Homo sapiens: one gene and its partners. The protein of the gene in region 1 purifies or fractionates together with the protein of each later gene. This does not show direct contact. Each region holds a gene or a part of one and is shown in the gene's direction. Other genes may lie near its edges.

Evidence for each region.
Region 2: the proteins of RFPL4B (region 1) and AMBRA1 purify together in Homo sapiens (affinity purification with mass spectrometry; 3 studies listed by BioGRID and IntAct, with this or other methods). This does not show direct contact.
Region 3: the proteins of RFPL4B (region 1) and ZZZ3 purify together in Homo sapiens (affinity purification with mass spectrometry; 3 studies listed by BioGRID and IntAct, with this or other methods). This does not show direct contact.
Region 4: the proteins of RFPL4B (region 1) and MIOS purify together in Homo sapiens (affinity purification with mass spectrometry; 4 studies listed by BioGRID and IntAct, with this or other methods). This does not show direct contact.

The regions. Positions count from the first base shown.
Region 1 is NC_000006.12:112,343,433-112,350,355, forward strand, and holds the start of RFPL4B (ret finger protein-like 4B), read left to right. Parts: upstream 1-3,897; 5' UTR 3,898-3,975; intron 3,976-5,760; 5' UTR 5,761-5,889; intron 5,890-6,171; 5' UTR 6,172-6,276; coding exon 6,277-6,923.
Region 2 is NC_000011.10:46,430,019-46,437,044, reverse strand, and holds part of AMBRA1 (activating molecule in BECN1-regulated autophagy protein 1), read left to right. Parts: intron 1-2,007; coding exon 2,008-2,196; intron 2,197-3,416; coding exon 3,417-3,571; intron 3,572-5,957; exon of another isoform or gene 5,958-6,154; intron 6,155-7,026. UniProt on the Homo sapiens protein: Substrate-recognition component of a DCX (DDB1-CUL4-X-box) E3 ubiquitin-protein ligase complex involved in cell cycle control and autophagy.
Region 3 is NC_000001.11:77,679,633-77,687,267, reverse strand, and holds the start of ZZZ3 (ZZ-type zinc finger-containing protein 3), read left to right. Parts: upstream 1-4,609; 5' UTR 4,610-4,683; intron 4,684-7,635.
Region 4 is NC_000007.14:7,569,870-7,576,895, forward strand, and holds part of MIOS (GATOR2 complex protein MIOS), read left to right. Parts: intron 1-2,566; 5' UTR 2,567-2,606; coding exon 2,607-3,900; intron 3,901-4,228; coding exon 4,229-4,327; intron 4,328-7,026. UniProt on the Homo sapiens protein: As a component of the GATOR2 complex, functions as an activator of the amino acid-sensing branch of the mTORC1 signaling pathway. The GATOR2 complex indirectly activates mTORC1 through the inhibition of the GATOR1 subcomplex.

The DNA.
Region 1 (6,923 bases):
CTACATATCCTAAGTGCCAAAAATATTCCTCTTCATGAAATTCGCCAGATCTGCAAAACACAGCTCCTTTTGAAGAGAAGAGCCAGGGAACTCCATTAGCAGGCTTTGATGGCATTAATAATTCAGAGAGATGCCCTCTATCTTCTTTAAGATAGACAGAAGGGTCCCTTTTAATGTATAACCAGGCAGAAAAGAGGAGAGGACACGGGTGGGAGAGAAGAGGAGGTTGCAAGCCAGCACCTGCCCCACACCAGGGGATGGAAGCTAATTGTGAAAAGCTGCCCCACTACAGCTGCTGCCTCTTGAAAAATGCAAACTGTGTTTTGAGCAAACATATCATCCACTTGTAAGTATCTTAGATTCCTGACAGATCTGATTATTCCCTCCTCCCCACTAGTGGCTTCATCTTATCTAATTAGCATGTGTGAAAGTTGATTCCTTTTTTAATCAGGAAGCTATGGAAACAAAATTAATTTGTGATTTAATCTTAACTCATGGAAGCATTAATGATAATTAAAAATTATTTTAAAAATTAAAAAAATTTTCATGCACATTTTTGATATGTTGTCATGAGAGTATTAAGATATCACAGATAAGTGGCTTCCAATATTTCCAGCACTTGAAAATTAAAAAAAATGGTGCTTCTCTCTGAATTCAGTATTCCTGTAATAATGGAGAATCTGGGAATCAAAGTGAGTACTTCTGGGAAAAAAAATATTTCTCCTGGCAGACAAAAGCTTAGAGGCATGAAGTCAGTGTATGGTCCAGCCACAGTCAGAGCTGGCTGAAAAATGTAAGAGTCAGTAAGGAATGATGTTTTTTGTTATTATCAACATCTGTTGAGGGCCTAGTAGGTGTTATTCAGTGATAGAGAAAAACTTGATTTGGAATCATCACTGCAGTTAAATAAATTAAATGGAAAAGTGAAAAAAGCCTCATCATTATTGGAAAAAGGAGAGAAAATGTTCCATATTTAGCCATATCATATGTATTAGTTTTGAGATGGCAGAAGCCAGACGAAAAGATGGCTGGATGCATCATTAGAGTTTTTGGTTACCAAGGAACTAAGATTTGCTGCTGCCACTTAGAGTTATAGAATTTGTAGTAGGGCAATGATCTTTGAATAGTTTAGAGAGGTCCTGGAGGTCCCTGAGACACTTTTAGTGAGTCTGCAGAATCTTCCCTTTTCCAACTAAACATCTGTGGGAAGCCACATTTTTTTTCACATATTTAAATCAAAGCAACATATCACAACAGGTTCAGCAAAAGTAGATGTAAGAATCCAGATGTCTTTTATTAAGCAAAAATTACAGAGGTTTGCAAACATTCAAGACAATGGAACTCTTCTAAGTAATTGTTTTTGTTTTAGAAAATAGTTATTTGTTTAAATAAAACTATATTATTTATGTTAACATGTAATAGTTTTATTTTAATTAATTAGAGCTTTAAAAAATTCTCAGTTTGAATTTCTAATATTGTAAATATGAAGAAATATAATTCATATGAACAAAAAGCTTTTTGGATTTCTCATTTATGTATAAGAGTGCAAATGATATCACCTTACACCTGTAAGAATAATTTTTTCTTTCTTTCTTTTTTTTTTGAGACGGAGTCTTGCTCTGTCTCCCAGGCTGGAGTGCAGTGGTGCGACCTCGGCTCACTGCAATCTCCGCCTCCTAGGTTCAAGCAATTCTATGCCTCAGCCTCACAAGTAGCTGGAATTACAGGTGCCCGCCACCACGCCTTGCTAATTTTTTTATTTTTAGTAGAAACGGGGTTTTAGCATCTTGGCCAGGCTTGTCTTGAACTCCTAACCTCGCGATTCACCCGCCTTGGCCTCCCAAAGTGCTGGGATTACAGGCATGAGAAAAAAGTAAATAAATAAAAAAGAGAAGAGATAACAAATGCTGGCAAAGATATGAAGAAAAGAGAAACCTCGTACACCATTGGTGGGAATGTAAATTAGCACAGCTATTATGAAAACTAGTATGGGGGTTCTTCAAAGAACTAAAAATAGAGCTACTATGTGATCTAGCAATTCTACTTCTGAATATATATCCAAAGAAAATAAAATCAGTACATTGAAGAGATATCTGCTCTCCTATGTTCATAACAGCATTATTCACAGTAGCCAAGATAGAGAATCAACTTATATTCATCAACTGATGAATGCATAAAGAATCAGGATATTCCTCAATAGATGAATACATAAAGAAAACATGGTACATGTACATGATGGAATACTATCGAGTCTTAAGAAATTCTATCATTTTCAACAACATGGAACCTGGAGGACATTATGTTGAGTGAAATAAGCTGGTACCGAAAGGCAAATGCTGCATGATTTCACCTATACGTGGAATGGAAAAAAGTAAAAAAAAATGAACTCATGGAAGCATGGAGTAGAATGGTGGCTACCAGGCACTGGGATGAAAAGAAGACTGAAATGGGGAGATATTGGTTAAAAGGTACAAAATTTTCAGGTAGATAGAAGGAATACTCTTTGGAGATCCATTGTACATCATGGTGGATATAACTAATGATAATGTATAGCACACCTAAAAATTGCTAAGATAGTAGATTTTGAACATTTTCATGACAAAATGATAAGTATGTGAAGTGACAGATATGTTAATTGGCTTGATTTAATCAGTTCACAGTGTATACATACATCAGACAATTAAAAAACAAATAGTAAATCTGGGTAAAGAATATATCTCTTTTTACTATTCCTACAAATTTTCTGTGTCTAAAATTATTTCAAAATAAAATGAAAGAAAAAATAAAATGACATTTTTGAATAATTAAAAAAGAGAGTGTAAGGATTCTTGAGATTAAAATCTCAAGTTTAAAGGGTCTTGAGATTACAATTTAAAAAGTTTGAGCTCCTAAACTTATGTGATCTGCCCACCTTGGCCTCCTGTAATCCCAGCTACTAGGGAGGCTGAGGCACAAGAATCACTTGAACCTGGGAGGTGGAGGTTGCAATGAGCCGAGACTGAGCCACTGCACTCCAACCTGGGAGACAGAGCAAGATTGTGTCAAAAATCAAAACAAAAAAAAACCCCAGCAACGCTTGAGACCTGCTCCTGCAAGTATTTAACTCACAGAAAAGGAGATAGCACCAGGTAAAAATGAAGTAAAAGCTGTGTAAGCTGTGTGTTGGGCCTTGCAGAACAGGAAGCCTGAGAAAGGAGAGGTTATTTAGAATGCAGCCTCTCTTGGGGAAAACGTATATTCCAGCGATCCTCTCTACAATGGGACTTCATTCACCCTCCAAATCCTTTTTTGGAAGTTTGTGTCTTAGCTTTCCTCTGTTGTGACTTTTACTGCTCCTTCTGCTCTCGATACAGACACCATAAAATTTACCGTTCATCCAAGAACACTTTTGAGAGTAAAAAATGGAATTATTAATAATTACAGGACAATAGCCTTGCCTAGCTGCCATCTTTCTTATCCTGTCCAGTAAGTACCCCTAAGAGTAGAATTGTTGAGTCAAAGGACATGAAAACTGTTGTAGATCCTGTCCGCTCATGATTCTATCAGGAATAGGAACACCAATGATTACATTAGCCACGAGGTGATTAGGTTTCAGCAGTGCATTTCTGTATTTGATCTCCAACACATTTTGCTTTTTAAAGTTGAGTTCTGAAATTAGAGACAAGAGCAGATGGCAGTAGATTCACTCTAATTCAGGGAGTTATTAAGAAATTTTGAATTTTTTTACTATATAATTTGAAGCCTGCTTTAATGTCATCATCATAAACGGAAGGGTGGGTTGATGAGTTTACTCAGATTAGAGTGGTACAACCTTTGGGGCGGAGCCTCTGACTCTGATTGGTTGGACAATGTTTTCCAGGCAGTATAAAAACGCTGGTGTCTCTCCGCGGAAACTCCGAGAGGAGCAGAGGTCTGTAGAGGTAGAGACGTAGGCTTCGGATCTTTTAGAATTCTGCTGGAAGTCTCCAAGTCAAGGTAAGTTATACCTTCTGTTTAAGCTATTTCCAATGTCCTATTCTGTCTTTGGCTACAAACTGGTGTTTTCGAATGCCTTTAACTATTTATTTTAGAGGAGAAAGAACTAGTTTTTTCCTGTGCCAGGGAGCTTTCTTCACCTTTAACTATAACTTTGCCATTTAAATTTTTACATATGAACCTCAGGTCACTCTTTGCATGAACTTGTATTTTTATGTGTTTTCAACTACAATGGATTTAAATGGTTTTAAAATGGTTTCTTTTTATTTTCCAACATTTCTTAAAAGATTTCTGGGTTTTCGGCCGGGCGCCATGGTTCGCGCCTGCGCTTTGGGAGGCTGAGGTGGGTGGATCACGAGGTCAAGAGACCAGCCTGTCCAACATGGTGAAACCCCGTCTCTACTAAAAATACAAAACTTAGCCGGACGTGGTGGCACATGCTTGTAATCCCAGCTACTCAGGAGACCGAGGCAGGAGAATTGCTTGAACCCGGGAGGCAGAGGTTGCAGTGAGCCGAGATGGAGCCACTGCACCCCCAGCCTGGGCGACAGAGCAAGACTCCGTCTCAAAAAAAAAAAAAGACTTCACTTCGGGTTTTCACTTAAATATACTTGGCCACTTTTAGTAGTTGTGTCATAATTAGCTGAATCATTTTATTATTGTTAGATAATTCGATTGTTCCTGATCATTTGGGATGGTAGTTAACACTGAAATGAACAACTTGTGAATAAGTGTAGCATTTTTTTTCTTTTGTAAAATTGTTTTCTTAGATACATTCCAAGGTGGGTTAGGCAATTAGATTTCCAGCACCATGTTAAATTTCCCATTAAATTGAAAAAGATAACAGAATTTAAGAAAGAGGTAATCTCTGGTTGTCCGCCAGCCAGGCACCATGAGATTGGAATGCTGATCAGGACTTGGAAGACAAAGTTTTATGTGGGCAGATACCCTGTTTATTACACACGTTTGTGTTTCCAGAGTCCAGTTGAGGCCAAGAGCACAGAAGGGGCTCAATAAGTATTTGTTGGAAAGAGATTAGAGAATGTGTTCTGGGATGTAGGACAGTTCTAGTAACTCAGTCTTAGGCTGGCCTCATCGGTGTTCATCACTTCCTCTCTCTGGTAATGTTGATGCTGCTCCTCTTTCTGTCCCTCATTCTGTTACTACTGTCACCACTGAATGTGTGATTTGTGGGTTCTTGGTAAGGAGTTCTGCTAGTTACTGCTCAGTGCAGGCTCTTATTGGAGAACAGTCCTCTGTTCACATAATCTCAAAGGTGCTGTCCAGCTTTGCGAGGCTGTCTTTGGGTCATGGGTCTAGCCTGGTCCAATATGCTGTGCCCAGCATGTCAGAGACAGCTCACTCAAAGAATAATAGCCATGGTGGGAAGTCCTCTGGGAGCACCAGAGGCTCTCAAGCTTTGGGAGCAGTTGGGGTAACAGGAGGGCATCTTCCTTGTCTGGAACATCTTTTTGGTTTGTATTCAGGCATGATTATTTTGGAGAAGTTGATGACTATTATATTTTTATTCACATTAATTCAAGCCTTAATTAGTTTTCTTAGAGTGCTTTAAAGCATTTCATCTAATAACACTTTGTCCTTAAACTTGATTCTTTTATGGGCTTCTCATTTTGCAGTGGATTTTGCTGGCTTTACTCACATGTGGTAATTTTCCTGGAAATTCTGAGGATTCCTTAGAGTCACTTTTCTGTGATGATTAATGTAGAATTGGCTTTATTTTCATTATTGAATTTAGACATGAACATTCTTTTTCCTGAACTGCAGAGGATCTACAAAGAAATACTGAGTGGAGACTATACTGAGATTCTGTTAAAGACCCACTTGAATTCAGCCCCCATTAGGAGAAACTTTGGCCGGAGCAGCCAACACATCACCTGGAAGTCTTCAGACTAGGTAAGCTGCACTGTCTGAAAAGAAAGTTTCCACTGTCCTATTTCTGTCTTGTGATTATCTAGAGTTTGAAGAGTTTCGAAATCATTTTTATCACCATGACTACATTACTGTGATTCTCTAGCAATTTAGTGTCACTTTCATACACAAACTGCAGAAATATTATTTTTTTGTTATTCTTAATTTCTTAGTTAATAAATTTATTATTATTTATTAAATAATATAATTCATTTATGTATGCCAATAACTTATTTATTAATTTATATTATTTAATCTTGGATTTAGACTATTGAAGAGTGGATTGTGTACTGAGGGCTCCCAAGTGCTTCCAGAAGCCAATAAAGGATCACTTCAGTTTACTTCACGGCTAAGGAGTAACCCTTAAGAACCATGGCCAAACGCCTGCAAGCAGAGTTGTCCTGTCCAGTTTGCCTGGATTTTTTCTCCTGTTCCATTTCTCTCTCTTGTACACACGTGTTCTGCTTTGATTGCATCCAGAGGTATATACTAGAAAACCATGATTTTAGAGCGATGTGCCCCTTGTGTCGAGACGTGGTGAAGGTACCTGCTTTGGAAGAATGGCAAGTGAGCGTCCTAACACTTATGACCAAGCAGCACAATAGCCGACTTGAGCAAAGTCTGCACGTGAGGGAGGAGCTCCGGCATTTTCGGGAGGATGTGACCCTGGATGCAGCCACTGCCAGCTCCCTCCTTGTCTTCTCCAATGATCTAAGAAGCGCTCAGTGTAAGAAGATCCACCACGATCTGACAAAAGATCCCAGGCTGGCCTGTGTCCTGGGTACTCCCTGCTTCTCCTCCGGCCAACATTACTGGGAGGTTGAAGTGGGAGAGGTGAAGTCATGGTCCCTGGGCGTCTGCAAGGAGCCGGCTGACAGAAAGAGCAATGATTTATTCCCTGAGCATGGCTTCTGGATCAGCATGAAGGCAGGAGCAATCCATGCTAACACCCACCTGGAGAGAATTCCTGCAAGCCCTCGCCTTCGCCGTGTGGGAATTTTCCTGGATGCTGACTTAGA
Region 2 (7,026 bases), on another chromosome or scaffold:
ACGAGCTGGATCTATGTAACAGCAAGATAGGAAAGTCTACTTTAATAACATACCCAACAGACATTTTCGAGACATTAAATGTAGATAAAATGGTAACTGTTCAAAGCTGTCTTAAAGCCCATAGAGTCTCATCTCCTTTCCTATTTAGGTTCATGTACTACTTAACATTTATGATTTCTTTATTTTCTTTCTCTCCCTGCTTTTGGTGGTTAGAGTGTAAATTGTTAGTTTCTGTTTATTTTTCTGAGCATTGTCAGCCTCAGAGTTAGAAAACCAAGATGGTCTCACTTCTGAAACTTCTCCCAGTTCCTTTGGTTCTATATCCCCAGCTGGATTCATGTGTTGATCCAGAAAAGGAGAGGGATATTGCCGTGTTTTGTTTTTGTTTTTGTTTTTGTTTTTGTTTTGGCAAAGGGCTTGGGACCCTGAGTAGTAAGTAGCAGACGGTCCCAGTGCTAATTAGATAAATCTAGCCTTACAGGCTAGACCAGATGGTGGGTTGGGAGTTGAGCAGTAGAAAGGCCTAATGGTGATAGCAGTGAGTATTTGGATATCATTATTTTATTAGTTAGCAAACAGAACCATCCTTGTGGTCCCTCTTCGGTTTTATGTGTAATGGTGCTGTAGGTGTCAGCCCCCGAGTTGGCACAATAGCCTAATCAATGTATTCTAATGCCTTTTTTGATATACACTGTCATCTCATTAGCAACACACAGGGAAAGGAGAACAAATAGAGTTTTACAAATCACTCTTAAGTATCAGATCACATAAGCCTGGGGGCCTCTGAAAGAGCAATTCCTTGTTTTGTTTTCCTTGAGGTAATTTCCTAGGGAAACTTGCCCTTGACTTTTTTTGGATTACTGCAGTAGATCACCTGGACTCTGGCGAGGGCAGCTGAGCTTGGCTTTTAAAAAATTACCACAATGCCTCTGACAGTGGACATCTCCTTCAAATAAGAGAAACAGTGAAAAGTTTTTTTGCTTGAGGTATATCTACATGAGACAAAGCCCTGATGAGCTTGGTCTGTTTGAATGTGTTGTGCTGTTCTGCCCGGGCCCATGATGTGGGCACTCTTGTTCTATGCTCACATCAAGGGTAAGCCACTTCTTCCTGGCAGGGAATCACACGGTGGGACTCAGAGGGATTCAAATGAAAACCGAAACAAGGCCTATAGGCACAGTGCCAGTTAACATCTCATTGGTGCTGTTGTGTGGAGTGGATGCTCCTCACCAACAGACATTCCTCCACCCTCAGATCTTGCCACCTTACCAGGCTGAGCCTGCTGCCTGCCTGACCCTGCAGTTTGTTCTCAGGAGCTGCAAAGTGCAGACTAGGGCTGTCATGGACATTGGCATAGAGCATAGTGGGAAATGAAAAGAGCCCTGGCCATCCAGCCGCAGCTGGGCTTTGTTCTGTTTCCTCTCTTGGTAGAGTTAGAGATTAGTATTAGCAAGGAGCTGTTCCAGAAAACTGGTCTCTAGATGTTCCAGTTCTCTTTCTCTTAAATGAGAAAGTAAGATACAAATTTATGAAATGACTTTCTTCTCCAAGGTCACATAACAGGTGTTGAATAGGATTCCTGCCCCAAGAAAGCTCTACCTGTATCATCTTTTTCTTGGAACCAGTGGGTTTGCATTTTCATTTATCTTGGTTTTGATCTCTGGGACAATAACAGCTGTTAAATGGCTCTCTAGGAATAATTTTTAATAACTTTTTCCTTATCTAATCTCTCAAGCGGTATTTCCTAAATGTGAACTAAGACTCAGCAGGTGGTTGTGGTGGTGTTGACTATCCTATAGTTTCCTGCTAAGGTGGGAGAAGAGACATACTTTTCTTGCCTCCTGTGTTTTGTTCATTTGACATTTTAGTTTGAATGAGAAGGTATTCTTTAGCATTTCTAGACAAGGTTCAGGCCCTTAGGAAGTCCCTAAAGTTTCTTGGCCCCAGAATTTTTACAGTATCAACTCCAAAGTTTCTTATCCTCTTTTCTTTCTTTGTCTGATGCAGCTTCCGTGAATGTGCTGGTGCAGAACTGCAAGATCTACAATGATGCCAGCTGTGACATTTCTGCAGATGGCCAGCTCCTGGCAGCTTTCATCCCCAGCAGCCAGAGGGGCTTTCCTGATGAAGGCATCCTGGCAGTGTACTCCCTGGCCCCCCATAACCTGGGCGAAATGCTCTACACCAAGCGATTTGGTAAGGGATAGGAAGCCCAACCTAATGACAGAGGGACGCTGGTGCCTTGGCATGGTCATTGCTAGGTGAGGCACAGCTTGGGTGGGAGTAATGGTCACATACTGCCCCTACCTTCACTGGGGCACAGGCCAGAGAAAGATTGCTTTGCAGGAGTGCTGGCTAGTAACATTGCAGAAGCATCTGAGCATTAGAGTCCTACCGCATGCCCCTGTTACGACGGTCAGGAATAAGGGAGGAGGTGGTTGTAGCACACACATGCACTGCAAGACAGTTTGGCATTGTGTATTTAAAACCTCCCAAAATGTGTCAGCTCTTTGGCAATCCAGCTTTTAAGGAAATAATCAGAAAACTATACAAAGATTTACATACAAGGGTGTTCACAGCAGTGTTACCATACAGAAAAATGCCAAATTGTTGCCTTGAGACTTTTTTGTTTGTTTGTTTGTTTGTTTTGCGGGAGGGTGGGGTGGGTGTTTTGTTGGTGTCACCTTGAGTTGAATTTAAGTGTTTTTTGTTTTTTTTTTAAGAGTTGACTAAACAAATGATGGTGCAGTGATAGAACTGCTCCATTGGCCCTTAAAATGCTCTTACAGAACAGTGTTCATAATGTATTAAATGAAAAAGGTGGGTTTCAAAATAGTAATTACAGGATGTTAACAATTTTTTAAAATGTTGATAACAACGGTTAGCATTTATTAAGTACTTTCTTTCTTTTTTTTTTTTTTTTTTTTTTGAGACGGAGTTTCACTCTTGTTGGCCAGGCTGGAATGTAATGGCGTGATCTCAGCTTACCGCAACCTCTACCTCCCGGGTTCAAGCGATTCTCCTGCCTCAGCCTCCCGAGTAGCTAGTATTACAGGCATGCGCAACCACGCCTGACTAACTTTGTATTTTTAGTAGAGATGGGGTTTCTCCATGTTGGTCAGGCTGGTCTCAAACTCCCTACCTCAGGTGATCCCCCGACCTCGGCCTCCCAAAGTGCTGGGATTACAGGCATGAGCCACCGCGTTCAGCCTTATTATGTGCTTTCTATATGTCAAACACTACACTCAGTATGTATATGCCTTCTCATCATACTCCTCACTACAGTCCTATGAGATAACACCAGGATGAGCAAGTGAATATGAAGATTAGAGAAAAAGACAAGAGTAAGAGTGAAAGTTGTTTCCTTGGAATGGCCAGAAGCCTAGGAAATATTTCTCTGTTTTGTTGGCCCTCAGGTCCCAATGCCATTTCGGTGAGCCTGTCCCCAATGGGCAGATATGTAATGGTGGGCTTGGCCTCACGAAGGATCCTGCTGCACCCCTCCACAGAGCACATGGTGGCCCAGGTCTTCAGGCTGCAACAGGCCCATGGTGGAGAGACCTCCATGAGGGTGAGTGCCATTGCTTGTGCCTTCACTGTATGGCAGCTCCCCTAGGCTTGGAAGGGTAATGAGGGGACAGTGGTGTGACCTCCCAGCCAGGACCAGAGCTATCACACAGTCATAAGGAGTAAGGAAGGGCTGTAGTCAAGCCCATCCATGACCAGCAGGCTTCATTTGTGGAAGCTCTGGACTATCAAAGGCCTTTCCTCACACCCTAGAATATGTGCTGCATTCCCCAGAGGCCTGCAAGTATCTTCAGATAAACTGAATACTTCCTTACTTCTACGTGAAACTTTTAATCTGGAGATGCATAAAGGACCCAATGAAATGCTTATTTTTAAAGCTTTTTGTGTGTGTGTGTGAGGGAACAAGCTGTAAAAAGTAATAGTATGCCATGAAATGTTTTTTTTCTGTGGGTTATAATTATGATGGAAGATGAAGACTTTAGGCAGTTGCTGTATTCTTAATCATCCCATTCATTTCACCAGTGGAGAAAAGGTCCTGTCTAGGACCCTGTCTTGTCTAAGGCACGTCTCTCTTATATTGCCATAAAAGCCTTCTGGGCATCCTGTGGTTCGTGGCCTTTTGGCCTCAGCCAGACTAACGTGCCTGAGTGAACGTCCCACGTCCCATAGGTGCTCATTTAGCCAGGGTTTTGTCAAGGGGATTCAAGCATTTGAACAGTTCTCTAATTAGATAGTATTCAAGCTTTGTCAGAATCCAAGAACCTGTGAATTTCCTTAGTACTTTGTGCAATCTGTACCATTTATAGTTGGATGTACTTGTTGGTCCATTTTTTGTCTTCTTTAGCTGTGTAGCGTATGTGTTTAATCCACCCAATTCGGTTCAGTGTAAGCTCCTTAGAGGGATATCCCTCAGGTCCCTCATTTAGTGCTGTGCATGTAGATGGCTGTTGAATATCTGGAATGGGAAGCATTTGTTTTAAATAAAAAAACTAGAGATAGCACCCATTATATACAAAGTGATAGAAAGTGGGTGGCCTGGTGTGGTCCTTTCCTCTCCAGCCTCTTCTCCCTCCTGTCTCCTACAGATATCCTCTGTCCAACTACACTGAGCCACTTTTCAAGCTTCTTGAATTTGTCAAAGTGCCTTCTTGCCAGGGTACCTTTACTTGGAATGCCCTCCTGTCCCCTATCTCCAGCTACCTGCAAGCTTTTTACTTTCTGTGGCATCCATCTTAATAGAATTGATCACTCGTTCCTTGTGCTATCATTGTACCTCTTACACATTCTCATGTCAGTACTTGTCACACCAAACTGCAGTTATTTGTTTCCATGTCACTCTCTTCTCCTGGGCTGTGAGCTCCTTGAGAATAGAGACTGTGTCTGTTTTATCTTTATGAAGTCCAAGAACTTCATGCGGAACCTGACACTTAGTAGAAAGTGAATGAATGAATGAAAGAGAATCTCAAAAAAAAATAAATAAATAAAAATAAAGCATCCTCTTTATCATTTCTAGGTGGTAACTAGCAGAACCAATGATGGGTAACATAACATCATGTCCCACCAAGCTTCTGAAAGGAAAACAAGTCATTCTGTCCTCTTGATATCACAATGACAAGAAAGTTCTGATCTTGAATTCCATATGGCTGGAAATATTTGACATTGGGTGAATAGGAGATGTCATTGTGGGATGTTCATCAAGTCTATTTTCTTATCTAGATATTTGAGGATGGAAGTTGAGTTTTCATTTAAATATTCTTCTTTTGCTTCTCTTAAGCAGAAGCTGGTCTCTGCTTTTCACCACCTGGAATCCCAGTCCCAACAGCTGCTCTTCTAACCCTTCCGGCCTAATTGTGGAATAATCGTTTAAATCATTAAGAGACAGAATCTGATGTTGGTAGCTCTGACAGACCTCTCTAGCTTCTTTCATAAGCCAGGGCTCTTGCCCAGCTCCTGCACACAGCCTGCCAGTTCTCCATCTTAGCACAGTTCCACTTTTCCATAGTAGCCAGAAACATCTGGCTGAAGACAAACAGTTACAAAGCAGAAGCCAAGGTGATGGGATCTGTTGTCACATATGGGGCTGGCAGCTCAAGGAATGTGGTTCTCTGCTGAGGAGATGTGGTAATCCAGTCAGCCCCTGGCTGTCCTGCCAAGGGTCTCAAGGCAGCTAGCCAGCAGCTGCATGCTTGGTGACTGGAGCTACTACTACTGCCAGGCTGCCTGGTGAACCTTTTTTGATTCTCAGTAGGTACCATCTGCCACCAAGCACTAAGAAAGGGAGCTGAAGTACCTAGAAAGTTCCCATTTGGGAAGTGTTCCTGTCACCCAAGAGACAGGATCAAGGCATCTCAACAAGGTTTAGGTCAACCAAGTGTCCACCCAGTCTGACTTTAAACCCCCATGCTACAGAAAGGTTTCTGGTTTTCCAGGTCTTGGTTGCCCCTTACGTCCAAAGGCACCAGATCACTCAGCAAATGTCCCTGAATTCAGTGATTGGTGGAAGGGAAGACACCAGCTTTTTTGGATAGCTGTGCTGTATCACCGTTTAAGGCAAGAAGTGAATTTTTGTCTGAGAACAGGGAGCAAGGGTTTAATGGGACAGTACAGCATCTCCCTCTTTGCACAGGTAAGTATAGGTGGGTGTCTCCATCTCTAATGTCAAGCTCTGACCATAAAGGAATGCTTTAGTGGGTAATGGGCCTGTCCTAGAGCTTTGCTACCCAGAATTCCCCTTCTGTCTGGTGTTACCTCTTGGAATTCACTGTGGTAATGTTCAGAGAGGCAAATGTGTTGGGCCAACAGACATTCCCAGGAGAACATCCTCCAGAGCATTGATTTATTTTAAGATGGCACTAAGTGACATCTCTCCCCAAGAGATGATCTCTGACACAATCCCATATGAAAACTCTTCTGAAAATGAATTGCTAATTGCTATTAGCCTTGATGCACTTACTCTAAGCAGTTCTTCAGACTTCTGGATCAGTGCTTCTCAAACTGTGGTTCTTGGACAACTTACAGTAGAACTACATGGGTCCTTATTAAAATACAGATCCATTTCAGACCTAAAATCAGAATAAGAATGGGAGTCAGAGGGACCCAGGATTAGTATTTTTAAAACAAGATTTCTTCATTTTAGGTGTCTGCCCTCAGCCTCCTCAGCAAGGCAGAGTCAGTCTCAGGTCTACTTGCCATTGTGGTTTTGTGCATGGTGCTTTGATTCTTTGCTAATTATGTTGCAGGCACAGTGGTGTTTGTCTTCTGTTTCCTACCAAACTCAGCTTTTTTGGCTGTCTGCGCCTCACCTCCCATCTTTTCTAGGCTGTTGCTGCTTTCCAGGTTTCTCCCTTGAATAGCTGTATGTGCTGGAGTCTTTTCTTTATGTTGAATCATTTTAATTTTTGTCCTTATTTCTAGGATCTAGGGTCCTTTTGATCTTTCCCTTCTCTGTTTATCGTGCTAGTCCTCCCAGTTTTAATGATGGGTAAGTCAGGAAAGTAA
Region 3 (7,635 bases), on another chromosome or scaffold:
GAGCTGGGCAGAGGCGCTCCTCACTTGCCAGACAGTGGAGCAGCCAGGCAGAGGTGCTTCTCACTTCCCAGACGGTGGGGTGGCGGGGGGCGTGGGGGGGGGGTGGAGGGGGGAGGGCAGGGCAGAGGCGCTCCTCACTTCCCAGACGGTGGAGCAGCGGGGCAGAGGTGCTCTCACTTCCCAGATGGTGGAGCAGCGGGGCAGAGGTGCTCCTCACTTCCCAGACGGGATGGGGGCGGGGCAGAAGTGCTCCTCACTTCCCAGAAGGTGAGGCGGCGGGGCAGGGGTGCTCCTCACTTCCCAGACGGTGCGGGCCGGGCAGATGGGCTCCTGACATCCCAGATGGTGCAGTGGCCGGGCAGTGGCGCTCCTCACTTCCCAGACAGTTGGGCGGCCAGGCAGGAGGGCTCATCACTTTACAGACAGGGCGGCAGCTGGGCAGAGGCGCTTCTCACTTCCCAGACGGGTGACCTGCACTTTTCATGAATGGTACTAACCAGTTTGAATTTATGTGATTATATTTTAAATGTCAGCCTCCCTCCCTAGACTGTGAGCTCTGTCAGAGTAGGGCCTGTGCTTGCTTTGTTCACCACTGTATCTCTAGCACCTTGTATGGCACCTGGCATATTTGTTGAAAGAATGAACTACATCAATGATTTTCAAAGTGTGTTCTGAGGTAGCATCTTATGTGTCGTGGTAAGGGACTGAGGAAAATGTCAGCTGGTTGCCTCCTCCCAGGTCCTGTTTTATTTGGCTCAAATATTGGATCCTGGCATAAGAATATGAGTATACAAGAAATTTCCAGTGCTTCAGAAAATATTGTACAAACTGCTGAATTAGTTGATGTTAATGTATCTTCCATCTTCAATATAACGTGATCCTAGGTCAAAATAACAAAGGGGGCCAGGCGTGGTGGCTCACGCCTGTAATCCCAGTACTTTGGGAGGCTGAGGTGGGTGGAAGCTTGGGGCCAGGAGTTTTGAGACCAGCCTGGGCAACATGGCAAAACCTCATCTCTATAAAAAATACAAAAATTAACTGGGCACAGTGGTGCGTATCTCAGCTACAAGGGACACAGGAGGCTGCAGTGAGCCTAGACTGTGCCAGTGCACACCAGCTTGGGCGACAGAACGAGATCCTGTCTCCAAAAGAAAAAAAAAATAACAAAGGCCATGTAGGAATATACATGTCGTAATTAGGGAGTGGTATTTGCCAGCAAGGTTGGCAGTGGTTCCCTTTTCCAGGAGCAATGAAGCTTCTCTTTCCTACTCTTAATTGAGGATCTCAGGGGCTCCCATCCCTTTCCACTTGGCTAAGAGTTATTCTCAGGCCTAGAGTTTTTTCTTGGCTACCCTCTTTACCATCCATGAACTGCTTTCTCCTTATCCTGTAGGGATTACCCCAAAGACCCTACAGTCCAGCCATTTGGGGTTACTTGTAGTTTTCTCCCATTCACATACTCATTCATGCAGTTCCCTCATCCAAGAATTATTTTTTTCTTCTTAGCAAAGTCATCCTGTAACTTAAATGCCAATCCTTGTAAGAAGCCCTTCCCAGAAGCCCTCCTCCCCTCCCACAGTACTTTATGTATCTATATAGAAACTTCTGCAGTTCAAATGGGCAAGTTACTTGCTTTATCAATAGAAAAATACAAATAATATTACAGGCTCGGTTCCCAGGAAGCACACTCTTACATGACTAGTGTGCAGGAGATTTATTAGGGAATGCTCTTGGGATCATTACTTGTGGGAGGGAAGAAAAGCTGAACTGGGCAGAAGTTGGACTTCAGTGAAGTCTCAATGGAATGCCTTAGCTGATCCTGCAAGTTGTTCTGCAGGAGGAGAAAATCCATCAGAATTGTACCAAATGGAGGTGAGAGGGCTGAGCCTTTTATCCCTGCATTGATCAGTCACTGGATGTGGCCTCTCTGAGAACATTATGACTCTGTGACACTGGCATGCCTGAAAGGGGCTGACAACCGATGGCTGGCTGTGGGTATGACTCTTGGCAGCAGCAGCTCAGTTCTTTATTCCTGAAGTGGGGTCTGAAAAGTGCATCTCAAGGCCTACCACAAATAGTATATATCTCATAGGATTGTCAGAAGCCTAAAATAGGGTAACATAGAAAAGTACACAGCATTTGGCCTGGCACATAGGAATCAAAAGCATGCTAAGTATGGTTATTATAATAGGATTTGGCTCTATAAGTAGAAAGAGCAAGGTAGGGAAACGTGTTTATTTTTGTATCTCTAGTCTTAGCATAGGGCACTAGTATGTTTTATCTTTCCTTTTTTATTTTTGAGACAGTCTTGCTCTGTCGCCCAGGCTGGAGTGCAGTGGCACGATCTCGGCTCACTGCAACCTCCACCTCCCGGGTTCAAGCAATTCTCCTGCCTCAGCCTCCCAAGTAGCTGGGATTACATGGGATAACAGGCGTGTGCCACCACACCTGGCTAATTTTTCTATTTTTAGTAGAGACGAAGTTTCGCCATGTTGGCCAGACTGGTCTTTAACTCCTGACACCTCAGGTGATCTGCCTGTCAAGGCCTCCCAAAGTGGTGGGATTACAGGCTTGAGACACCGCGCCCGGCCTCCCCCACCCCCGTTTTTTTTTGACATACTGCCACCCAGAAACACTAGTATGTTCAATAAATACTTGATGTGTTAAAAACATGTAACCCTTTTTCTTGAAGTAGATGTTACTTTGAGTTGAACTCAAAGCTAAAATACAAAACACCATTTAAAACATTTAATAACTTTTATTAGCAACATAAAAGAAGGCACAACACGTATCCACTTGCCCGAAAAAAAAAATAGTGTTGCAAAGGAAAACAAAAGTAATGAAACAGCACTGGACAATTGTCAAAGAAGAGCCCCAGTTAACGGCTTCTACCACTGGATTTTATATTTTTGGAACATAATCTTTATAGCCACGGAAGGAGGTTTAGCTGTTTTTCCACAGCTCATAAATGATGAAGTTATTTATCTTCATTAATGTGTGTTGGGCTTTATTTTCCTACATGCTCAATATAGTTGGTAGATCTGTTTTGATATTACTGAGCACTGCTTTGTGCCAGACACAATTCTGGGGATACAGCAATGAGCAAAACAGTTTACTAAGTCCCTGCTTTTAAAAATTTTACATTTCTGGTGGTGAGGATACTGACAAATAAGGTCTGGAAGTTGTAACTGTTATGAAGAAATAAAAGCAGGTGAAGAGTTAAAGCAATGGTGCAGGTGTACTTTTTTTGGATACAGTGGTCTGGGCAGCCCTCTGAGAAGGGACCTGAAATATGCATCGAACATCGAGGAGTTAAAAAAAATCTGGAGGAAATGTTCTGCCAGAGAAATCGGCAAGCACAAAGGCCCGAAGTGGTTCGAGCCTGCGTGCTGTGGTACAAGCCAGAGGTGAACGAGGCGAGGCAGAAGCACGATCATAAATACATGTATGGATGTTCTCCTGGCTTGAGACCACAGTGCTAAGGGAGGTGGGGTTTACAAATCTCTCAGGAGGCCACAAAGGGCAGGATGAAGCCGATTTCCAATGGCGGAGCTACGAGGACGCCTTTCCTCTGCTAGGGCCAGGTTGGACGGTTGCAAGGGATGGACTGCAACCCGCCCTCGGAAGACCAAACTTCGCCCAGGGGCAGGGACTGGCCGGGGAGGGCCTCGGCGGCGCCCGACCCGCGGGCGCTGCACGGGCCGCGGTTACCAGCAGGCGGTGTAGTGAGCGCGCCTGCAGCAGCAGCAACAGCAGCAGCAGCGGTCGCCGCCGCCGCCGCCGCCCGCCAGTCCCAACGAGGAGAAAGGAGGGGACCGGAAGGAGCCGCTGGTGCTGCGGGAAGTGGCAGGAGCGGGAGGCGGGGACCCACCTGGAAGCGCCGCGGCGCCGCTATCGAGCTTCCTGCAGCGGTGGCCACCCGAGCAAGTGCCGTGGCGGGGGCGGAGAGCGGCCACGGCGGCGGCGCCTCCCCAAGTGGCCCGTTGCGTCCGACCCCGCGTGAAAGGTGAGCAAGAGCTCGGGACACGTGGTGAGGGCCAGACACGGGGGAGGGAGAATGAAGGGGGAGGGAATGGGGGTGGGAAACGATCGGCTTGGGACCCGGATTTGGAGCCAAGTACCGGGAGGGGGTGGGCTGGAGGCGACGACTGCGACGGCTGCGACGGCTGCGACGGCGAAGCCCCCACGTGGGGCGGGGGTGCGCGCGCACGTGTGCGCGGGCGAAAGGGGGGGCGGGGAGGGCTTTTGGGAGGGCGTCGGGAGCGCGCTCGCTCAGTAGCGGCCCACGTGACGGGCACGCCGAAAATGTTTCCACGTGACAGGGAGGCTGCCTGGGGCAGCGCACTGCGCTCTGTTTATGTAGTATAATCGTGGTAATCGGAGGTTTTTAAGATTTCTGCTTTTCTGTACAAGGGGAAAGGAGGAGACGTATAAAGCGGAAAGACTTCCTACTGTCTCAGTGTTTTAAATGTTCACTACTCCGTTAGTGAAGTGCTTTTTAAGTTCCGAAATACTGATTTTTTTCTGTACCGCCATGTTGGGTCTAGTGGAAGCTCGCGAGATGCGAGTGGGTTTGTATCGCGAGATCTCTCGATTCTCGCGGGACCTCGTTGGCAGAGCAGTTGTCCTGGATGGCGGAGCCTTGGGTTCCGGGGGCCTGGGACCTGCAACTCTTTCTACAAGGCAAGTCGTTAGGGAGGGGCCCGGGGCGAGTGCCTCTTGGTGCCGGGATACGTGCTGCATCAGCTTCCCATAGTCTTGAAGGGAATACAGTAACCCCATTGAGGCAACACTGCCCTCCCCATCCCCCTGCGGGCGCTCCACCACCTGCAAAAGCATATGCACCCCTCAGCCAGGTCCTTCTCCCCACGCAGTGATAGTTCCACCCTGTCCCACTCACTGGAAGTCCGGGAGCCGTGCTCGCGCAGACCTGATGATTCCATTGGATACCGTTCCTCTTACTTTAAGATGTTCTTGTCAGTTTTTCCCTTCTTGCCATTTTCTAAAGTATTCCAGACCGGTTAACTATTGTGTCGCGTTTTCTGCTGCAGTACCTGACTCCAGTCTCCTGAAACAGAACTCCTCCCATCTATTTTCTCTGGGTGTCATTTACTCATCACCCTGACTTCGTATTTTCAGTAACTTTTGGCAGTATTTGGAGGGCCCATTATGTCTCTGACAACACCTGTGGTCAGAATAAAATCCTGCTTTTCATCATTTTGTACGTGCCTATTAACTCAGTTATCGGTAGGGTTTTAATTACTACTGTGTTACTGAGGTTGCCATCTTTGAAGTTTAGGGATGGTTGTTTTAGGTTATATATTTAAGGTAACAGACTGTTTCATGTGATTTTTTTTTTTTTTTTTTTGAGACGGAGTCTCGCTCTTGTCGCCTAGGCTGGAGTGTAGTGGGGCGATCTCGGCTCATTGCAACCTCCGCCTCCCGGGTTCAAGCGATTCTCCTGCCTCAGCCTCTCGAGTATCGAGTAGCTGGGATTACAGTCGCGCTTCACCACGCCCGGCTAATTTTTGTGTTTTTAGTAGAGACGGGGTTTCACCATGTTGGCCAGGCTGGTCTCAAACTCCTGACCTCAAGTGATCCACCTGCCTTGGCCTCTCAAAGTGCTGGGATTTCAGCACTGTACAGGCGTGAGCCACCGCGCCCGGCCTCAGGTCAACTTTTTAGTAAAGAGCAAACTCATAAATTTTGGCATCAGAGTTTGAGCTTTATTTTTCTTAAATGAGTTTGAAATCAATTTAATATTTCTCTCCAATTCCCTAATGTCTCAGAAGTGAATTTACAGTATACCTTTGTTTTTTCGTATTCTTAAGTAGTATTTGGATTTTATTTAGTAGTTGCAGTACTAAATAAGGAGTGGGGAGTTAATTACAAAACGAATCAGGTGACTAGTTAATTTATTCATAGTTTGTTTTTTAAAACTACAAAAGTGTTTTTTTTTCCTATACATAATACAGAGAGGTATATAGTATAGAGTAACACAGTGCTTGTTTCACGGTACCACAAAGTTCCATTCCTCAGTCTTAAATCTCTGTAACCAGCCTTTGTGGTTGCTGTGTATCATTCCAGATATTTCCATATTTTGGTTTAGTTTTTGTTTCTTAAATGAAGGGGAGAAAGTGTTGTTTTAATGGGGTACCAACACAATATTGGCAATCAGTAAACATTTTTTAACTAAATTAAATTTTTATTTAGTGATATATGCCTGTTTGTCAAGACTTACGTATGCATACTTACGCAGATTTTTTTTGTTTGTACTGATTTTTTTGGTAGTATAATCTTGTGAAAATATCACAAGTAACTTATTTTTGCAGTAAAGTTGATTTATTGTGCTTGGTAGCTTTGCACAGAAAGAAAGTACATGTAAAACAAGATTTAAATAAATTAATGTTTTATCACTTGAGTTTTATATTTTTATCTTTAATGTGTGTTATGTATTTAACTTTATATATTATATATTCTAAACTGTAACCTAACTATATAGGAGTTTTTCAGACGTTTTAAAAGTTTATCACTGTGATTAAAATGATAGTTTGACCATGCAACTTAGTGATCTCAATTGGAGAGTGGTAGACATTAGTAGTTAGTACAAACAAAGGTATATATACTTGAAGTTGCTAAGCGGCTATCATTTTGTAAGTGTTGTTTTTGTAATTTCCCCCCGCCAAACCTACCAGTAATAATATTTATCAGACCAGTCACATAAGAGAATTGTCCACTCTTTGGGCAATGTGGTTTTTTGTTGTAACAGTGCAAGTAGAAATGTTGAGGAATAGAAGTGAGTGTTGAGAGGTATGATGTTGGAAAGAGGAAAAGGGGACATTGGGAGTGTAGAGGTTGATACTGAAATGGAATTGGACAAGTTGGGGAGAAAAGAGGAATGTAGAAGGTTGACAGTGAGGCAAGAGCCATGGTGCAAGAATAGTCAGGCTCATAATAGTTGGAGGACAGCCCGAGTCGGTATTTGAGGCAACTTTCTCCTCCTATTCTTTTTTAGATAGTTCTGGGTCTATTCACAGAATTGCTAGATATTTCCTGTCATAAAAGTCAGCAGCTTAAGGTTATACTTAATTGAAACCTTGTGAATTCTTTACTTTAGATAAAGCTATTCTGTTAAATAACATTTGTTAAGTACGTTTTATTATTATTTTTAGAAGTGGGAAATTGTGAAAATGACAATGAGTTTGAAGGTCACAGTTCTACAATGGCCTTTGCAAAGGTATCTACATAAGTTTAGCTTGGTAACTGGGCCTTTAATAGTCCACGTGCATCTGATCTATGAAATAATATATGTTCCTTGTTCTTAGAACTTTTGTTTTATAAACTTTTCAGTATTGGGTCTTGGGAAATACCAGTCTTTTACAGACACGAAATTATTTGAGGTACTTGGTAGAAATATACTGAGAAAAATCCAAGGAAGAGGAAAAATGTATTTTTACATGGTTTGTGTTTGGTTGAGTAAAATTTAAATAACCAAGAAATTTAATTTTCACTTTTCTCAATTATTACGGTCATATAAATGATGAGAGCTAATGAACTTCAGTGATCAGAGGAAACTATTAACAGTGATAATATAATAATACTGATTTATTCTCACTTGAGTTTTTTCCTTAAGGT
Region 4 (7,026 bases), on another chromosome or scaffold:
GGGAGGAGGGTATATACTCTAGGAAGTGGAAAGGACAGTGTAAAAGGACAGCAAGAATGTTGTGCCACAAGGCCGGTGCAGTAGGCAGAGACCAAAAGCATTTAGGGTTTTGTAGGTTATACTAAGAGCAGCTGAAGACCATTAGAGGGTTTTAAGCAAGGAAGGATAGCCTGGTCAAGGTTGTGTTGTAGAAAGATTTTTACTCTGGTATTCTATAAAGCAAAATTTCTGAAGGACCAGGGGAAAGATGAATAAAAGAAAAGCCTCCAGCACCACACACCAGATATGTTGTATACCTTAATTTACTGAAATCAGTTTTCAGAGGCTTGAGACTATCCTCTGTGTGGTAGCACTTGGAAGCCTGAGTGAGGAGACAAGATGATAAATAATTGGGTTGATCTAGGACTGGGGAAAGGCAAACCCAAAGTGGCAAGGAAATGAAGACATTGAGGGTGCTAGTAAGAATATTGAAATGATTGATCTTGGGCTTGAGAAATGCTAAAGAAGGAAATAAAACCAGTATAAGAATTCCTAAATCAGTGGTCCCCAACCTTTTTGGCACCAGGGACCAGTTTCATGGAAGACAATTTTCTCACGGATGAGGGGTGGGGGTGTGGTTTCAGGATGATTCAAGCGCATTACATTTATTGTGCACTTTATTTCTATTTACATTGTACTATACAATGAAATAATTATACAACTCACCGTAATGTAGAATCAGTGGGAGCCCTGAGCTTGTTTTCCTGCAACTAGATGGTCCCATATGGGAGTGATAGGAGACAGTGACAGATCATCAGGCATTAGATTCTCACAAGGAATGCACAACCTAGATCCCTCTCTTGCACAGTTCACAATAGGGTTTGCACTCCTGTGAGAAACTAATGCTGCTATTGATCTGACAGGAGGCGGAGCTCAGGCAGCAGTGTGTGAGATGAGTGGCTGTAAATAACAGATGACGCTTAGCTCCCTTGCCTGCTGCTCACCTCCTGCTGTGTGGCCTGGTTCCTAACAGGCCAGGGAGCAGAACTGGTCTGCGGCCCTGGGAGTTGGGGACCCCTGGTCTAAATTATATGAGTCTATGAAGTTTTAGACTGGTAATTCCCAACTGAAACTTTTGCAAGATCAAAAAGAAAAGCAATTATGTTTGAGTTGAACTATTTAGTGTATCCTTATTAGGAGTCTATGCCAGGCTCTATATATGGCACTAAGGATAGAGAGGTAAGTGAACCATAGCTTTACCTTATGAGAACTGACAACAGAGTTGTACAGATGCCAATTGCAATGAAGATTTTAAGTATGTTCATTCTTTTTGAATCTATTACCTTTTGCCAGCCTCTGTTAGAAACAGGCATTTAAATTTTTGTAGGCAACCTTAATTATTGAAACACCATTTTTAACTATAGCTATATTTAGTTCGTGTGCTTCTACTGCTAGAATATTTATTTTTTTCAAAAATTCTACTTTAACACTTATTCAAAGTTTGTAGAAGCGAAAACTGAAAGAGCCTCTAATGATCACTTAATCCACTTTCTCAGAGTGTGGTATGTGTGTACCACTGGTCATAAACAGGATGCTTTGTAGATAAAACACAATCAAGCCTTTTTAATAGTTATATATTTCAGTGTAGGTTAAAAATATATTTAGCATAGCATACCATGATTCATGGACCTTATGAAGAGATTAAAGTCAATTTTCAGATTTTAAAAATGAGTCAGTTTAAAGAAAAATATTAATGGCATAGGTGTTACATGACTGAAGTTTGGGAAATACTAATCTAAACCAGCTCCTACATTGTGTAGATGAGAAAACAAAGGGGTTCCCCACACACAATGACTTTTCTGAGGCATATAACTAATATACGGCAGAGCTAGGACTAGAACTCAGGTTCGTTCAGTACATTCCAGTGTTTATTCTGCCATACAAGGCTGATGCTTATTACTAAAGTTGAAGAAACCGCTGTCTTAGTATGACATTGTACTTTAAATCTCCATTGTTCATTACGATGACCACATATGGTTATTTATATTAAAATTTGTTAAAATTAAGGTTTAAAATTTGAATTAGTCACATTTCTAGTGCTCAGTAGCTACATGTGGCTAGTGGCTACCATATTGGACAGCATGAACATGAAACATTTCTGTCATTGCAGAAAGTTTTATTGGGCAGTGCTGCTTTAAACTATTGCTTAGGAATATGATTCATAAGTTTTCCCCCCTTCAAAGGGATAATACTTATTAATTTGCTTACCACACTGAAGTTGTTATAACTCTGAAGTTAAGCTGAAGGTACTAGTAACAGTGCAATTAAGATAATTGATCATGGGAAATATAGCCAGGATGGGATTCTCAGATTCCTACCAGCTCATTTTATTGGAAGTGGTTGTTCTTTCTCCTTTTTTTTCAATAAATATTTTCTTGAATTCATAGCAGATAGAGAGAAGAAATACAAATATATTGAAAAAGAGGGTTCTTGAATAGAGAATTTTCTGACTTTCTGAATAGTTTATTCAACGTAAGAATTATATTTTGCTGATATTTTAAAACTTTTTATTTTTAAACATTTTCAGTGAATGGACCTGAGTGGACCCTTTGATCACATCAGTAAACATGAGCGGTACCAAACCTGATATTTTATGGGCACCACACCATGTTGATAGATTTGTTGTGTGTGACTCAGAACTAAGTCTTTATCATGTGGAATCTACTGTGAATTCAGAACTCAAAGCTGGATCTTTACGTTTATCTGAAGACTCTGCAGCTACATTACTGTCAATAAATTCAGATACACCCTATATGAAATGTGTTGCCTGGTATCTTAATTATGATCCTGAATGTCTGCTGGCAGTTGGACAAGCAAATGGTCGAGTTGTACTTACAAGCCTTGGTCAAGATCATAACTCAAAGTTCAAAGATTTGATAGGAAAAGAGTTTGTTCCAAAACATGCACGACAATGTAATACCCTTGCCTGGAATCCACTGGATAGTAACTGGCTAGCTGCTGGTTTAGATAAGCACAGAGCTGACTTTTCAGTGCTAATATGGGATATCTGCAGCAAATATACTCCTGATATAGTTCCCATGGAAAAAGTGAAACTTTCAGCAGGTGAAACTGAAACAACATTATTAGTAACAAAACCACTTTATGAGTTAGGACAGAATGATGCTTGTCTGTCTCTTTGTTGGCTTCCACGAGACCAGAAACTTCTCCTTGCTGGTATGCATCGTAACCTAGCTATATTTGATCTTCGGAATACAAGCCAAAAGATGTTCGTAAATACAAAAGCTGTTCAGGGTGTGACGGTAGACCCATATTTCCACGATCGTGTTGCTTCCTTCTATGAAGGTCAGGTTGCAATATGGGATCTTAGAAAATTTGAGAAGCCAGTTTTGACATTGACTGAGCAACCAAAACCCTTAACAAAAGTAGCATGGTGTCCCACTAGGACTGGTCTACTTGCCACTTTAACAAGGGATAGTAATATTATTAGATTGTATGATATGCAGCATACACCCACTCCCATTGGGGATGAAACTGAACCCACAATAATTGAAAGAAGTGTGCAACCTTGTGACAATTACATTGCTTCCTTTGCGTGGCATCCAACAAGTCAAAATCGAATGATAGTTGTAACTCCCAACCGAACAATGTCAGACTTCACTGTTTTTGAAAGGATATCTCTTGCCTGGAGCCCAATTACATCTTTAATGTGGGCTTGTGGTCGTCATTTATATGAATGTACGGAAGAAGAAAATGATAATTCTTTAGAAAAAGATATAGCAACGAAGATGCGTCTTCGGGCTTTATCAAGGTATGGACTTGATACAGAGCAGGTGTGGAGGAACCACATTTTAGCTGGAAATGAAGATCCACAGCTCAAGTCACTCTGGTATACTCTGCACTATATCCTTTTCATTGTGAATTTTGTGAGGTGAATCAGGTAGAAATGTTCTTGAAGTTTGCCAAAAGGTCAGTCTGTAAATATGCTCAATGTTTTATATACAAATACAAGTTACATAATACTAACATTATAAAGTAAAATTGTTCTAAACTTTCGAACTTGAAATACTGCTTTGTAGATTGTGTAGGAGGAAGAAAAGTGTATCTCTGCAATAGAGTCGAACCACCTTATTTACACTGATACTTATTATGAATTGGCTCCAAATCAAAATAAATTTAGCTTTGAAATATATTGTCATGCATCACTAGTATTTCCTATGCATTTAAATACTTATGAAGCAATACACAGAAGATATGGATCAGAAATCTCCAGGCAACAAAGGATCATTGGTTTATGCAGGAATTAAATCAATTGTAAAGTCATCGTTGGGTAAGAAAATTCTATTTCATTTTCTCCAATATGTTTATAACTTTTGTACTTTTATTTTGCCCCCTGTCATTTGGCAGAAATTATCTAGTTATTTCAGGATCATGTACATAATTTTTTTTGTTTTCTGATTGGATATTTCATTGTATTGTTGAGTTAAATGCATACTTGTATTTATATCCAAAACCCTTTTTGCAGGGAGTCTTAATTCTCTGAAGTGATGTTGATCTTCTTAAATCTATCCACACGTTTATTCAATGTTATTTTTTTGAAAACCCACTTTGAGAGGTTTTACACTAGACAATTTACAGATTACTGATTGTTAGTTCAGGTTTTATCGCAACATTTTGCTTCTTAAAAACTAAAAAGATCTCTAATTGAAGGAGATCCCTTTTTATTTTGCTCCTCAAATACTTTCATTGAGCCATCTAACAGCAAGGAGTATGATATGAAATATGGCCTAACGTGGAGGAATTATACCTGATATAGTCCTTGGTTAATTAGTGAATGAATTAATTAACGTGTGAGTTAATGTAGGATTGAAAATTGGTATGGTAAACTATTAAAGAATAAAAGTGACAAAAACCAAACTTTTTTTTTTTTCTGACTGCTTTAAACAGTTGTTCCTATTCTTTTACTGGAATTGAATAATGGGTTATATTAGAATTGCAGGTTGAGTATACCTTATCCAAAATGGCTTGGGACCAAAAATGTTTCAGATACTTTCAGATTTTGAAATATTTGCGTTATATACTTAGAGATTGACCATCCCTATTCTGAAATCCAAAATGCTCCGATGAGCATTTCCTTTGAATATCATCTCAGCACTTAGAAAGTTTCAGATTTTGAAGCCTTTTGGACTTCAGTTTTCAGATTTGGGATGCTCACCCTGTATCTCTGTGATCTAGGATTCGTTCTCTAACTTTTGGTAAGTCAAATTTGGGCCCAAGTCAAGCTGTTAGAAAAGTAGTTAACATTATTTAGTCAAAGAGCAGTAATAGAAGTAGTAAATCCAATTTGATTTTTTACGGAGCTTGTATCAGTACCATACAAACAAAATACAAAATAATAAAATATTTTAGAGTAGGTTAAGTGTTTTAATTAAACTGTTACATTATAGTGTTTTTTTAACGTCTTTCAAATTACTTTGGTTCACTTTACTGAAAGATGCAGTAGACTACTTACTGATCAGTTTGATTTTATTGTTTTTGTATTAGCCCTCCACCAAAAAAAGTAACCTTTATTATAAATAGTAAAATGAATAAGTTTAGTTAGAAGCTGCTGTTTTTATTAACATAGGTAAAAGGGCACACATACTGTTTTACTCCCACAAATGAACCTGGTACCATGGTTCAAGATTTTAGAGCCATTGCCTATTGCTACAAAGAATTAAACACCAAGTTTATAGAATTTATAGTGTTTTAGCTATATAGTAGATCAGGCCACACTGCACTCAATTATTTAGAGGTTGGTTATTGTGTTTTTTGTATTTTGATATATTTTAAGGAAAAGCCAGCATCTGAGGAAAAGCAAAAGGGGAAAATGTAATATGTTTATGTTTCTGGTGCACTAGAGACAAACTGAGTATCCCACCCCTGTGTCAAAATAGTCTCTACCCAGACTAAAGAAACACTACTGTTGGAAAGATTTCCTCATTCATCATTCTCTCATTGCTAGGTTTTCAGCTTTTTTTTTTTTGTTTGGTATAGATATTTTTGTTTCTACTACCCAAAGGTGAAAAGTAGAGAAATACTGTCAAATATGCCACTCTTAGATTTCAGTCTTCTGTTTTATTTGGCCATACCTTTTCCTCTAATTGTATCTCTAATAATCAACACATGGTAAGTCAACACATTGAGCCATCTTGTCCACAGTAACCTAATACACAAGTTTATTAGAGCATACAGCTAAATTTTAATTTTGGTAACAAATAGTATATATATAAGTGCTTGCTATGAATTAGTTGCTTTTCCCATGTTACTTTAATTTTTACAACTACAATATGAAGTAAGCTCATTCATTCAGCAAGTATTTATTACCTACATGCATGCTATATGCCAGGAGTTATCCTAGGAACTAGAGACATAACTCTCAAGAAGATACATAAATCTCTTCCCTCATGGAGATTGAGCAGGATCAATGTCATCCCTGCTCTTGAGGAGTTTATATTCTAGTTTAGAATATAGACAAGTAAGCTGGCAGTTATAACATAGGGAAGAACAGACAGTTAATTACAGGAAGGACTCCTAATCTGGTTGCAGGGATTAGAGGTTTCTCAGAGGAGGTACAGTTAAAGACAAGGTCCAGACAGGGAGCAGCATGTGCAGTGGACCCAGAGGGTAGAGAGCATAGCACATTATTATGGCTGAAACAGAGCATGAGAGAGGAAGTGAGGAAAGAATGGAGGCTAGAAAGGTAAGCAGTGGGCTAACTCAAGAAAGACTTAGAAATCATGTTAAGAATTTAGGGAGATTCATCTTGTAAGACGGGGAAACAGATGGATTTGTGACAGATTTGTGTTTTAAAAGGATCAAGATTGATAGTAGGGATATCAGATAGAAGCCTGCTGCAAGGAGGCAAGACGTGATGCTATCCTTACCAAGGTTAGTAGCAGAGGAGCTAGAGAAATGTGGATACATTAGAGAATAGGAGAAAATTTAATGATTAATTAGATAAAGGGGTGGAGAAGATGGAAAAGTCAA